2 separate regions of the Homo sapiens genome follow, and region 2 is linked to region 1. The links come from fine-mapping of genetic effects on gene expression. Tissue or cell type: unexposed skin. Region 1 holds a variant in brackets; the other region holds the start of a gene. All regions are shown on one strand. Distances are from middle to middle.

Region 1 (7,852 bases):
AGCCTGGCTGTTCATTTCTAAAACAATTTTTTTTTAGAGATGAGTCTCACTCTGTCACCCAGGCTGGAGTGCAGTGGCATGATGATGGGTCACTCAGCCTCGAGCTCCTGGGCTCAAGTGATCCACCTCAGCCTCCTGAGCAGTTGGAATGACAGGCATGTGCCAGCACACCTGGCTAATTTTTAAATTTTTTTGAGAGATAGATAGGCTTTAGCTATGTTGCCCAGGCTGGTCTCAAACTCCTGGCCTGACGTGATCCTCCTGCCTCAGCTGCTCATGACGTGAGGATTACAGGTGTGATCTCTGATCATTCTTTATTTGAAACAGGTGCACCCTGCCAGCATCAGCAAGACAGCTGCTCCCAATGGTAGGCCGGGCCGCCCACTCACGGCTCCTACAGCACTTCCTCTCTGCTGGCCTCAGGCGGCTCTGGAAGAATGACGCCCTAAGATACCGCACTGCCCTCCAGGTGGGGGTGGGGGTGGACGGAGACAGGCAGGAGTGACCAGTGCTACTCTCCCAGCTCAAACCCTACACGAAGGCAGACCCAGCGTTTGCAAAACACCAGCCCCCTGTGAACAAGTCGACCTGCCGTGCAGCCCACCTCTGACTCCGTTTCCCCCAGCATACCCGGCCGCATTGGGAGGCTCCACCTCGGTCCAACACTCCGGCATTAGCAGGACCTGCTGAATGAGTGGCACCGGGCCCATCCATCTCTGCCATCTCTGCTCAGCCCTCTGCCATGTTCAAATATCACACAGTCCCCAGGTACCTCGTAAATCACTGTAATTAGGGGCTGCTCACTTAAAATTAGAGCGCAATTTTTTAAAAAGCAAATTGTCAGTAAGACACGTTGGCTGTGGCTGGAAATATTTATGAGGCTGCCTGCGCGCAGGCTCTGGCTTCCTCTCCCTCTGTCTGGCCGGCCCGAGCTGCCACCTGTCTAGTCTGCACACATAGCGGCCATGTGGCTGGCGGGTGCCCTGGGGGAGACTGAGACACTCACTCTTAATGAAGACACTCGCGGCGTCCATTGTGGCCACTGCACTCCAGTCCAGACCCCGGCTGGCCTGGCCTGGCCTGGGGCTCACCTGCCCCTCTGGAAGCAGAGAGGGCCTGCCCTGGAGGGCCGGGGACCTCTGCAGCACGTCCGTGGAACACGTGGGCCAGGGAGTGTGTGCCCGGCCCCCATTCCAGCTCTGCCACGTGAGCAGTGCTCACACGGTGCCTAGGGCTGAGGGGTCTTACTAAGCGCTGGTCCCACCATCCCGAGCCGAGCCCCATGGTGTCCCAGCGGGCACGGACAAGAGGCACGGAGTGAGGGAGGGGTGGAGGCTGACAAAGTGCTTGGAGAGCAGAGACAGCGCCTCTCTCCACACACCACCAACTGCAGGATGTGGTGGGGCTCGGAGGCCAAGGGGGAAGTGTGAGGGATTCCTGTCAAGAACAAGACCCCCTGCTGCTGAGGGTCCAAGAGAAACTCCATGAACGGGGAAACTCAAGGGGAGGAAGCTAGAGATGGAATGAAGGAAGCCCTGAATCCTGGCTCAAACAAGCAAAGCTGAAATAATGCAGTAAAATGAGAAGACACGCAGGAAATGGAAACGATGCTACTTCGAGATACTGGGAAGTTATGTGAATGCTGTTCATCTGTGGGGTGGTGTGAAGAGGTGGAGGCCACACCAGTGGACATCAAAACCAGAAACCAGTCAGAGAAGGACAACAGGAAAACTGTAAGTGCCTGGAAATCAAACAGCACACTTCTAAGTAATCCACGAGTCAAATGGGATGCCTCGAAGGAAATAAAAAAGAGAACAGAATGGAAACAAGAATACAGCATAATGAAATTTGCCAGACGCACCCAAGGCAGTGCTTAGAGGGAAACAGACAGCACTCAATGCCAGTATCAGGAAAGGAGAAAGATCTCAAATTGCTTCTCTAAATTCCTACTTCAAGAAACGCAGGGAGAAACAAGCCCGAAGCAGGAGGAGGAAATAATAAAAGTAGGAATGAATAGGAAAACAAAAGACAGTTATTAAAACCAAAAACTGGTTCTTTAAAAAATAGCAATAAGGCCGGCCAGGAGCAGGGGCTCACACCTGTAATCTTTGCACTTTGGGAGGCCAAGGTGAGAGGATCACTTGAGCCCTGGAGTTTGAGACCAGCCTGGACAACACAGTGAGACCCCATCTCTATAATCAATCAGCCAGGTGTGGTGGCATATACCTGTAGCCCCAGGTATGTGGGATCACGTGGGCCTAGGAGTTTGAGGCTGTAGTGAGCTATGATCACACCACTGCACTCCAGCCTGGGCAACAGAGTGAAACCCTGTCTCAAAAATTTGTTAAAAAGACCAGCAACAATAAATTGATAAACCCCTCGCAAAACTGACAAAGATTAAAAAGGGGGAACGCCTGTAATCCCAGCACTTTGGGAGGCCAAGGCAGGGCATCACGAGGTCAGGAGATCGAGACCATCCTGGCTAACACAGTGAAACCCCATCTCTACTAAAAATACAAAAAATTAGCTGGGTGTGGTGGTGGGTGCCTGTAGTCCCAGCTCCTTGGGAGGCTGAGGCAGGAGAATGGCATGAACCCAGGAGGCAGAGCTTGCAGTGAGCCGAGATCATGCCACTGTACTCCAGCCTGAGCAACACAGCAAGACTTCATCTCAAAAAAAAGAAAGGGGGGAGAGTGAAATGACCAATATCAGAAATGAAATGGAAATATTATAATAGATCCAGAAGCTATTAAAATAACAATAAAAAATACTACAACAAAACTTGATGCTCATAACGAACTGGACGGATTCGTCGAAAACCACATACTACCAAAACGTGCCAAGATAAAATAGCCTCGGTAGTCCTATAACCATTAAATAAATCGAGTTTGTTGTAATTAAAATGCTACTCAAAATCTCCAGTCCCAGATGGTTTCACTAGAAAGTTTTACCGAACATTAAATATGAATTAATACCAATTTTACACAATCCTTTTTCAGTTAACAAAAGACAGGGAAACACCTTTCCACTATTAACCTTGTACTGAAACCAACAAGGATGGTGCGCACACACAGAAAAATAAGTATCAGTCTCTCATGAACTTAGATGCAAAAATACTCAACAAGTACTAACAAATGGAATCCAGCAATCTACGAAAAAGAGTATCACACCCTGACCAAGTGGGATTCAGTTTAGGTGTACAACGAAGGCTAGTTCAAATTTGAAAATCAATCAATGTTATTCACCCTATCAACAGGCTAAAGGAAAACAATGATATGATCCTATTGACACAGGCAAAGCATTTGACAAAATTTAATCTCCATTCCTGACAAGAACTCTTGCAAAGCAGGAATCAAGGGAAAGTCCTCCGACTTGGTAAAAAGCACCATGAAGAACCCTCAGCTCACGCTGCTTCACGGAGGAGTCTGGCCGCCTTCCCTCATTCGGTCAGCGGAGAGCTGGCTTTCCCCACTCATCCTCAACCCAGCATGGGAGCTCCTCACGCCAGGGCATGCAGGTAAGAAAAGGAAAGCAGCAGCATAGGGATTGGAAAAGAACAGAACTGTCCCTACTCGCAAATGACATGATGGCCCACGTGGAAAACCCTAAGCAATCTGCAGAAAACTCCTAGAATGACGTGACGGCCCACGTGGAAAACCCTAAGCAATCTGCAGAAAACTC[C/A]TAGAATGACGTGACAGCCCATGTAGAAAATCCTGAGCAATCTGCAGAAAACTCCTCGAACACTAAGTGAGTTCACGAAGGTTGCAGGAAATAAGATGAACATACAAAAATTAACCACATTTCTATAAAGCAATGGCAAACAAGTGAAAAACAAAATTAAAAGGCAATATAATTTACAGAACATCTTAAATACTTGGGTATAAATCTAACAAAAACTTGTATAGTGTCTGTTTGCAGAAAGTTAGGAAATACTGATGAAAGGAATCAAAAGAATGTTTGTATAAATAGATACAATGTTTATGAACTGGAAGACTTATAGTAAATCAATTTTTCCAAAATTGATCTTTGGTTTTAAGGTAATTGCTGTCTAAACCTCAGCATATATATATATATATATATATATATATATATTTTTTTTTTTTTTTTTTTTTTTTTTTTTTGGAAAGAGGGTCTTATTCTGTCACCCAGGCTGGAGTGCAGTGGTGTGGTCTTGGCTCACTGCAGCCTCAAGCAATCTTCCTGCCTCAACGTGCCAAGTAGCTGTAACTACAGGTGCGCACCACCACTCATGGCTGTGTTTTTTTCATAGAGATGGGGTCTCCCTGTGTTGCCCAGGCTGGTCTCCAACTCCTGGGCTCAAGCGATCCTTTTGCCTTGGCTTCCCCAAGTGTTGGGATTACCGGTGTGAGCCACCATGCCTGGCCAGCATCTTTTTTTTTTTTTTTTTTTTGGTAGAGAGACACAAGATTATTCTAAAATGTATATGGAAAGCCATTCCAAAAAAGAAGAGTAGGGGAATTGCCCTTCCTGATGTTGAGAACTGTACAGCTACAGCACAGCGTTATACAGCTCCTACATCAGACAGACATGGCTGGGGCAGCGCTGGAGGGGAGATGTGGAGACCAGCGGAACAGAACAGAGGAACTCGAAAGAGACCCACAGACGTGTCCAGGCCACTTTCTAACAGAGAATATTATGCCGTGACCAAGTGGGACTTAGTTTAGGTGTACGAGGCTAGCTTGGTATTTGAAAATCAATCAATGTAATCTGCTATATCAACAGGCTAAAGAATAAACAACATATGATCCTATTAATCGATACAGAAAAGTCACAAAAAAGTCACAAAGGTGCTTCAGTGGAGGAGGGGCAGTCTTGTCTTTGCTACAGCTGGAGCCGGAGCAGCTGGACACACTTAGTTAAAAAAAAATTTTTTTTTGACCGAAACCTCACATCTCATATAAAATTTAACTCAAACTGTATCATGAACTTACATGTAAAACACAGAATTATTTTAAAAAAGAAATCTTCAGGATCTGGATGAGGCAGAGCTCTGACACTCAACACCAAAGCACAATCCATAGAATAAAATTAAAATGGATAAATGGGCCTCGCCAAAATTTTAGGAAATTGCACAGTGGAAGAGCCTGTGAAGCAGACACAAGGACAAGCTACACAACAGGGCGCCAGCGTCTCCCTGCCCATCTCTCCTAGAACGCCACGGCCACAGAGGACCCCAGCACCTGGAGGGGCCAGTGCACAGAACCCGGAGGGGGGTGACTGCAGCGTCTTAACCCCAAGTGGGATTCCTGCCCGTGCCCTGGCCCCACAGGGCAAGGCCCACATCTGTCTTGCTTCTCTCTTTTCCCAGAACAGACTTCACCAGGCTGGAGAGTGGCCTGGGCACAGAGGCCGGGGCTGTGGCATCAGCAGCCATCGTGAGGGCAGAGCGCCCGGCGTTCTCAGACACACCCCTGCTCCCACTGGCCTTCCTGGGAGAAGCACCCCCTTGTTCCAGATGAGAAGCCGCAGCTGCTGGGCTGGGGGAGGCATGAATATTCCATGCTCAGATCTGCAAGCGCCATGCACCTAACTGGACACAGCTCCAGGCGCCTGCTTCCCTGAAGCCCAATCCTCCTGTCCTTGGTGTGCTGCAAGCGCCACTCCCGAGCAGGGCTGTGTGTGGGGAGAGGAGAGGAAAGGAGCCCTTGGGGGAAGTTATGCTGGGAGCCCATTTGTGGGGGGAGGGAGAGCGGGAAGCAAGGTGCATGAGGATGGGGTGTCCTGCAGCTGGGTCCTGACTGGGGGCTGCTCCCTCTCCTGGGCCTAGGCACTGCAGGAAAACGGCAGGTAGTTAGCCTGCCACCACCTCCCAGCCACCACCACACACCCTCGACGACCTTCCAGATAGACGGCTCGATCCTGACTTGAGCACTGCCGGCCCCAACACCTCCCCTCTTACACCACCTGCTTGTGTGGGCCTGGTGGCAGAGCTGCCGACGTCGGGGGCTTTCACACCCACCAGAACTAGCTTCTAACCTCGGCTTGGCCACCAGGAAGCTGCGTGACCCTGGGCACACCGACACACCTCTCTGAGCCTGGTCTGCATGCTGGGCATTGCCGAGAAGACTAACAAAGTCAGGTGCGTAAAATCACCGGGCTCAGGGGAGACACCGAGCACAGTGGGATGAGGAAACCCTGTGCCCACGTTACCCCGGGCCATGAGGACGGCAGCTGCCCCGTGCCCTGGTGCCATCGGATGGCCTCTACTGGGAAGTGAGCTGCTCCCGGCCTTGTCCCCACCTCGCTGCAGCAGGACTGGTTGTCTGCCAGGCCCCGGAGCCCCCAGGCTTCCCACAGAGGCTCCCCCACCAGGACCCGTGGGAGAGGAGATGGGCGTGCCTGGCTGGCATCTGCCGGGGCAGCCACAGGTCCCTGTGAACCTCGCTTGTAGAAGACACCTGCTCTCAAAGCCAGCGAAGGGGAGATTTTTTTTTGTCTTGAGGCTGTAAGGAAATCAGTGTTTTCAACTTCAAAAGACTCTCCGGGCTTCTCAAGTTGAGAATCTGACGCATTCCAGGCACTTTCATGCACACATGGGGCGAGCCGGGGAGAAGACTCAGCAGCGTCCGCCGAGAGTCAGCCTTGAACTTCAGGGGTGAGAAAACCCTTCAAGTTCACACTGCAGCACGACACACACTCTCACACCCACACTCACAGAGTGCAAAAGGACCCTTAGAAAATCTTCAAAATGTTAATGGCGGTTAACTCGGAGTGTTGGGATGGAAAGTGACTCATGGTTCTCTGCATTTTCCAGATTTTTTTATATGCTGCATATTTGTAATTAGGAAAAATGTATATCTAAATTATATCTGCAAGAGCGGAACAGCTTCGAGACAGGCCGCTGAGCACACGGGTTCCCCACTGCGGACACATGCAAGCCCCAATCCTTATCCACCTGGCCTGCAACCCTCAGGCGTCTTGCTCGTCTGCCCGTCTGCCTGGAGCGTCTCCAGACACTCTGTGGGAGGCCCCTCTGTGGGCTGCTGAGGCCGGTGCTGCCCACCCACCTGCCCCAGATGTCCTGGGCTTGGGGTGCCACGCTGGCGTCATGGCTGGCATCTTGGCTGGTGGCACCACAGACGCCAGGCGTGGGTCACAGCGTGAGCCCAGCCAGCTGGTTGGGGTGGGTGGCGCTGGTCAGGTGGCCACAGCAGAGTCCGCTGAGGCCACCTGTCATAGGGCTGCTGCTGAGGTGTGAGAGACACGGGCCCATGCCCCTCGGCACCCAGTGGCCAGGGCACCCAGGTTGGGCTTGTGCGAATCCCAGGTGGGGCACAGCTCTGTCTGTCCACGGGTCTTTGCGGTGCCCGTCTGAGCGCCTGTGAACAGTGCTGGGCAGTCTCACCATGCACACAACTCTGCACGAGCCTCCACGGCCAGGGCTGCCCTCCCTTCCCTAAAAAGTCTCAGGGGCTGAAGGCCTTGGACCATGGCATCAGGGTCCAGAGGTGATAAACCTGGGTAATGTGTGCCCTCATCCCAGCGGGTGCTGCTGGAGGTTAGAGGTTAGCAGAGTCCCAGCCCCGGGGTTAGAGGTCAGCACAGTCCCAGCCCCGGGGTTGGAGGTCAGCATAGTCCCAGCCCCAGGGTTGGCGGTCGGCACTGTCCCAGCCCCGGGCGGGGTTGGCGGCCGGCACAGTCCCAGCCCTGGGGTTAGCACAGTCCCAGCTTGGCTTCATGACCTCGGCAGCAGTGATCTGTATCCCAAAGTTCGGGCGTGATAACGTCAAGACCGTGCTGAGCCTGCTGGGTACAGCGTGAAAATGGCTGGTGCTACCGTGGTCTACACAACCTGTTAGACCGGGATACCGAGGACTCCTGGCAGCCTCAC
Region 2 (7,273 bases), 21 kb after region 1:
GGCCCTCCCTAACAGACTTCTCAGTCATTTAGGTTGGGGGCAAAAGGGGCTGGCCGCAGCTTCGTGTAGGTGGAGCAGGGCTTGGTGGGGGGGCAGGGCTAGGTGGGCTTGCCCGGGGTCGAGGTGGTGGTCACTGTCTAGTCCCCACCCAGGACAGACACTCGGGGTCCCAGGGAGGGCTCTGCCTCCTGCCTGGCAGGAAAGCGTCCTGCCCACCCGGTGCCATGGCCTGGGGAGTGCTTGGCTCTCAGGCCAGCTGCCCGCAGGAGAAGCTGGGACTGGGGCGGGGAACCAGCCTGTTCGCTTCCGAGTGGGGCTGACAAACCCCCAGCCTCTTCACAAAGCCTCCAAAAACGGAATGTCGTGGGGAACTGGACGCAGATCCACAGGGCCATAGAGAGCATTTCCGGCTTAGTCAAGGGAGTAACTTTTTAACAGTTTAAATGCGCGTGATGGGATGTGCAGGCTTGGGAGGCAGTGGACCAGATAAAACCATTGGCCAGAAGATACAGAAGGGCTCTAGGCCGCCCAGGCCCTTCAGTTAGAACATCCCCCACCCCTCCCCCCCGGCTCCCAGGGCAACGTCAGAGACCATCTGGATGGAGGATGGGGCTGGTCCTGGCTTCTCACAGTTTGGGAGGTGGGGCAGCTGGGCACCAGGTCAGCAAGCCACAGGTCCACCCACAGCCAAGGCCCAGGCTCCCCGCCTCCCCCCGTAACCACCTAGACACAGAGCACAGACCCTGCCTGGCCATCGGCCCTCCAATCCCTGCTGGAAGATGTGCCCAGGCGGAGCAGGACCCCCGCATTACTGCTGCGCGTCCAGCACCTGCAGCGGGGCCCAGCACGGTGGGCATTCCACATGGGCGAGGGCCAGACGAGTGAGCCACACCCCACCCTTTACTCAACCATCCCCCATGAGGACGACATCAGAGTCGTCCCCCAAGCCCAGGTCTGACACTCTCTTTCCCCAACTTTGGCCTGGAGCCCGAGGCCTACCCCTCTGCTCTCCCTGCACGCTGGGTGCCCTGGAGCCGGTGAGCATGAGCACGTGAGATCCTGAGGCCAGAAACATCTCCCCAACCCAGCCAGACAAACTCTAATTCACCTGTGAGCCCCAGCTCCAGGCCACCTCCTCCAGGCAGCCTTCCTTGACTGCAGTGCACCCTGGGGTATCTGGGAGACGCCTCTGCACAGTCTTTGAATCGGGCTGTACAAGTATCTGTCCTAGCGGCAGCAGAGCCGCGTCATAAACAGTAAAACAAGCCCGGCGCGGTGGCTCACACCTGTAATCCCAGCACTTTGGGAGGCCAAGGCAGATGGATCACCTGAGCTCAGGAGTTCGAGACCAGCCTGGCCAACATGGCAAAACCCCGTCTCTACTAAAAATACAAAAAAAGCCAGGCATGGTGTCGGGTGCCTGTAATCCCAGCTACTCGGGAGGCTGAGGCAGGAGAATCACTTGAGCCCGGGAGGCAGAGGTTGCAGTGAGCCAAGATCGCACCACTGCACTCCAGCCTGGGCAACAGAATGAGACTCCATCTGACAACAAAACAAAACAAAACAATAAAACAGCAACAGCAGCTCAGGGCTCCTGCAGTTCAAGGTTTTAGCGGCCTGGGCATGCGGTTTCTCTGCCTACTTGGACCTGAGCAGCCTCCCTCTGCCCAATGTCACTGCACACTCCCTGCATGCCCCAGCCCTGACTCGGGTGAGTGGACCATGCAGACGGCGAGAGGCCATGCAGGCCAAGCCAGGATAGAGCGAACCCTGGCGGGGCCAGGTGGTCCCCGTGTGTTTGCAGCCTGGATGTGATGCCCACATCTCTGGGCCAGGCACAGCTCTCCACTGTCGGCGGCTGGTGGGATTAGATGTGACCAAGGCCGCTCCCGGGCCGGCTCTACTCTGTGGGGGGCAGGTGCGGCTCTGGGGGTCCTGTTGGGCCTGAGCACGTCCCGATAACCTGGCTGCTGCCCACTGCCCAAGCGCCAGAGCACTCGGCCACCAATGAGAGCTGTGCTTCCCTGGTCCTGGGTTAAAAATATCCCCGTAAGTGACAAGACTTTGAGAATTTCGTCTCTCCAGTCACTCACATGGGGGGCGAGGACAGCTCTTGGCTCCGCGTCTCGCCCGGCTGCATCTGATGGCTCCCTGGGCTGAAGCTGCATCTCATGAAACAGACGAGAAGTCATTCACAGCCCGACAGCACAGGCACAGAAATTTGCTGTTTTATACCAAGTTGGGCGGCCTGTCATCTAGAAGCTTCTGTCCTGACCTCCTCAGCGAAGAGGAAGTCATGGAACCAGCTGCTGAGCCTCCTGACCTCGGCCTGGCCTCTCCTGGCAGCTGTGGGCCCCAGGATGAAAGCGGGCACCACGTCACTCACGAGACAGAAGCTGTCGTTCTCAGAGCCTCCCAGGTGAGTGGCCGGGCGCCTACCTGAAGCTGGACGAGCCCACAGTGGCTGAGGCCAGTGGGGACCCAAGGGGCCGGTCCGGCCTTCCCGGACCACCAAGGAAGGTGGGCGCTGCTTCCCTCGCAGTGCAGATGGTCTCGGCCGTCACTCTGCTGTCCCTCTCCTGGCTGTGAGCTCAGCTTCAGTGTCCCCACCTGTGAAATGGGGAGACCCCCAATCCTTCTGGGCGGGTGCCTTGCCTCTGCCCTCGCATGAGTCTCCCCTTTCTGAGCTGGGATTCCATCTCTCCTGGGAATCAGGTGCTGCCTGGCTGAGAACCCGGTAGCCAGGCACAATCACGCCGTCACCACCCCAGCCCTCAACCAGACCCTGCCTGCTCGCCGCGCTCGGCCGCCATCTTCCTGTGGACGCCACTTACCCTCCGGCGTCGCCATCGGCTGCAAATTGCCTTGTTTTTCATCTTTGGCAGGGCTCAAAATTTGATCATGAAAGGGAATTTTCTTTTTTCTTTCTTAATTAGTACTTGGTAATATCACCAAGCTGTGAGTTTATGGCTTTGTAGATCTTGTGTGTTTGACACTAATTACTCACAAAGGCTTTTAAAGCTGCATTTCAACTCTGCAACCACCATGCCAGTAATTAAGCTAGAGGAAGCGGCAACAGATTTCATTTTTCACAGACACCCTTCCCACCTGTGCTCCCGCTCCGTGTGGCCGCAGCCCCCGTGGCCCTGTGGAAACCCAGCAGCTCCTTGCGGCTCCGGCCCTGGAGGCCTGAGGTGGCCTTGCCTCCAGGAGCCCGGGCTCAGCCGTCACAGCCGGGCAGGTACAATCAGGACGAGCTCCCTGTGAGACTGGGGACCCAGGCCCAGTCCCAACCCAGGTGAAGGTCCCTTCCTTCTGCCCCAGAGACGACTAACGAGCAGCTCCCCTGGCTGCCCCAGAGCCCCCCACAGGGGCCGTGGCTTCTGACCCTTCAGACTCAGCTGTTCCCAGGGGCCCTGCTTCTGCCCCGCCCGCCCCCACGGCTGCACTCAAGCCTGCGCTGTGCACACCGAGGCCAGCTGAGTACCGGATAGGACCTGGGCTGAGGCTGCCCAGCTCACAGGGAAGCAGAAGCCGAGAGACCAAGAAGAAAACATCCCCCAACTGGCTGACAGTCGCCCTCCTCGACCCCAGATGCCACTAAGAACAACGCAAAGTTCTGGCGCGCAGGGAGGGAAGTCCGTGTTGACTTGGGGGCGGGTCTGCAGCAGGAAGGCTGGGCACACCCTCCACTGGCTGCTCACTAACTCCCCTGCTGGCAGAACCTTCCGCTGCACAAGCAGAGGAGAAAGGAAGGCGTGGAAGAGAGCAGGTGGCCCACGGGCTGGGAGGGGCAGGGAGAGGAAAGGCGGCAAGGTTCCCAGCAAAAGAGAAGACGCCACTCCGAGAACCCCGGGAGGTATAAGGGAACCCTGTTTAGTAACGCTGCATGTGCAACAGATAACACGTAGTTCACGTGCACAGATGTGTGCAAACATCTATGATGTAACCGAGCGGGGCTGTGCAGAGCAACTGTTACAGTCTGAACTGTGTCCCCCAAATTTAGATACTAACCTAATCCCCATGTGACTGTATTTGGAAATAGGACCTTTAAGGAGGGAAGTCAAGTCTGATGAAGGTCATAAGGGTGGGTCCTGATCCAGCAGGGGCACCAGAGCTCTCCAAGTGCACAGGAGAAAGGCCACACAGGAATACAAGGGGCGGCCGTCCACAAGCCGGGAGGAGAGTCCTCCCCAGGGGCCAACTCCGGTGACCCTTGATCTCAGATTTCAGCCTCCAGAACTGTGTGAGACACACATCTGCGGTCTCAGCCCCCGCTGTGGGGCTCTGTGACGGCAGCCCCAGCCAGACCAGCAGAGTGGTGGACACGGCCAGGTCTTATTTTGGTGAACTAGCCCCTTGGCTCCACAGATCTCTGTAACGTGCTTATGTGGGAGGATGGTAGGGGCACGGCAGCCCCACCTAGGAAGCAAGGTCTCCACAACCATGGGTCATGTTAAACCAGCTCCTTCTCTGGAGGCTAAGGGCCTCACGTGGTCAACTGCAGCCCAAGGTCCTGAGCCCCCTGTCTGGTCCAACACCAGGTGCTTTGTCTCTCTTCTCCTTCGCACAGGTGGTCACCCTGCTGGACGCTGCCCCTTTCCCCACTGTCCTCACCCACCGAGACCAGGTCCTACCACAATAAAAGGACTCTGGTTAGGGCTTTATGGAGTCACCAGCCTTTCAGAGACACATGCTACAATACTTGAATGATTGCAGCTAAATTGATTACGATACCTTGGATTTGCTTCAGAATAATCCAGGAAGGGGGAAGAGGGTGGGATGGGCTCACAGGGACTTCTCGATGCTGTTTTCCATATTTTTATATATATGCTTAAAACTTTCCATGGCAAAAAGTGAAAATAAACACAAACAGAAACCAAACCAAAAGCTAAAAGATGACAACTCATCCTAACCAGGCCAGGGTGACCTCCTCTCAAAACCCAGGCTCTGGAAGGACATCTCGCTCTTACCCCCAGAAGGTGACATCCTTGGCCCCAGAGCCCCTGCCAGGGCTGCCCGGTCTTTACCCCTCTGCCCAAGGCCACACGCACAGGATGTCAACAGTATTTGTAGAATTAGCGAGGCAGCATGGGAAGGTGCGGTTCCATCTCCAGGCCCCCCGCCCTGGTCCTCCTCCCACTGGGTCTTAACTCCCCGAGGGGCCACAACGCTTCAATGCGTGAGGTGCCGTGTGCCTCTCCACCCAGGAAAGTGTGCACAAGCACACTCCGTGCTGCCTATAATTCTGGGAACGACAGGGGTCTATGAAGCCCACCCAAGTTCCTGGAATACAGACCCCTGCCCTGAGCTCGCAGCGGAACCCCCATGCTGCTGCTCCTCCTCACATGTGGATCTGGGACGTCATGCTGGGCAACTGAGACCAGGTCTGCCTTCATGTTGTAAACAACTAGAAAAATGAACAAAATACACACAGTAACTGTTCACAGACACTGGGCTGTCTAAAGACAGAGAAACAAATGAAGTGAACCTCTGAACACCCCTTGCTCTACCCAGTGGTCTCTTCCAGGCTTGGCGCCGTGGGGTACAGCTCAAGCTCAGCATGATGGTCCTGCTGAGAGGAAGGGAGGATCTGTGGAGGGCGGAGCTGTGCACAGAAGGCTTCTGGCAACCTGGAGAAAGGTCTCGCTGAGCTGCTGAGTAATACACTCTACGCACACAGCATGCAACTCCACAAGGCTGAACCAAGCACATCGGGGAGCTGTCAGGGAACAACTCCAGAGGTCACGCAGGACCGGGGACAGGCACATGCCGACCAGCCAGAGCAAGTGTTCTTGCTGAGCACCCAGGTCATCTGCTAGGAACCTCAGAAGGGTCATGTCTTAGTAGCAGAGTTAAACTAGCCCTGGAATAAAAGCAAATCCATACAAGCCCCAAGAGAGTGTGAAAACAGTTCTTGAAAGGATCAAGCTGACCCCAAAATAACTTAACTGCTTGCCAGAAAAAGCCCAATACTCTTCAAAGAAAGAACAAGGAAATTTGCACCCTTTCATACACTTAACATAAAATTAACAATTACCATCATACAATCAAAAATTACTAAGCATGCAAAAAAAGGAAAATGTGTTCTATAGCTAGGAGAAAACTCAGCCAATAGAAATAAGTCCAGAAATGATGAAATCAGCAGACAAGGATTTTAAAACAGCAATTATAAATATGCTGCAGAATTTACAGGAAAACCTGAACACAGTGAAGGGGATGGCTGCTAGCTCCCAGGATGGCCCTGAGCGACCCTGCTTCCTGGCAGTCACACCCTGGTGCTGTCTCCTCCCACATCATACCAAGGTTGGCCTACATGATCAATTGAAAACGGCAGAGCCAGGCATGGTGGTGTGCACCTGTAGTCCCAGCTACTCAGGAGGCTGAGACGGGAGGATCACGAGCCCAGGAGTTCAAAGTTGCAGTGAGCTATAACAGTGCTGCTGCACTCCAGCCTGGGTGACAGAGCAAGACTCTGTCTCAAAAAAAAAAAAAAAAAAAAAAAAAAAAGGCAGATGTGATAGTAGATCAACTCCAAGATTATGTTATAAAATACACTGTAGCTTCCATCTTGGGCTGGCTCTGTCTGTCTCTTCCTAACTCATTCAACACTCACTCTGCGTTGAACGCTGCCATGTTGTGAGGACACTCAAGCAGACCTATGGAGAGGTCCATATGGAGAGAAAGTGAAGTCTCCTGCCAAGGGCCACCTAAATGAATTTGGGCACATCATCTGGCCCCTGTCAAGCCTTCAGCTTTGCAACCCAGGACAAAAGCCCCTAACTGCACCCTCTGACGAGAATCTGGGCCAAAACCATCCAGCTAAACTGCTCTGGGTTCCTGAATTTCAAAAACTTCACGAGACAACAAATGCCTGCTGTTTTAGGTGCTAACTTCTGGAGAAAGTTGTTACGTAGCAACAGACTACAAAAATGAAGGAGAAACCAAAGATATGAAAAAAATAACCAAATAGACCTTTTAGGCATGAAAAACAAATGAAATTTTAAAACTCCACTGAATGAAATCAAGGGCAGGTTAGATACTCCAGGATAAAAGGTCAGTGAACTTAAAGACAGGAACAGAAACTATCCAAATTAAAGCACAGAAAAAAGATTGAGAACCAAAAAACAAAAAGTACAAAGCTTCAGTAATTAGGATAATATTAGTGACTTAAAATATGTAAAACTGGAGTACTGGAAAAAGGGGAGGGGAACAGAAAAAATACTTAAAGAAACAATGGCCAAAATTTCCCAAATCTGACTAACTATAAATC

Evidence for each region. PIP is the estimated chance that this variant, and not a neighbour inherited with it, causes the effect.
Region 2: LINC01659 starts here. The variant in region 1 is fine-mapped to the expression of LINC01659 in unexposed skin (GTEx, PIP above 0.99).

Annotation. Positions count from the first base shown.
Region 1 is chr22:23,450,348-23,458,199 of GRCh38, reverse strand. No RefSeq gene overlaps it. Among named protein-coding and RNA genes, the nearest start is that of LINC01659, 21 kb to the right of the region's middle. RefSeq lists enhancers at 5,868-6,514, 7,061-7,562. The variant C/A (reference allele first, on the strand shown) is at 3,682.
Region 2 is chr22:23,429,897-23,437,169 of GRCh38, reverse strand. It overlaps LINC01659 (long intergenic non-protein coding RNA 1659), which reads right to left and starts at 3,606. Exons shown (of 3, transcript NR_110538.1): 1 at 3,109-3,606; 2 at 2,440-2,610; 3 at 2,099-2,346. RefSeq lists enhancers at 827-1,518, 5,085-5,930.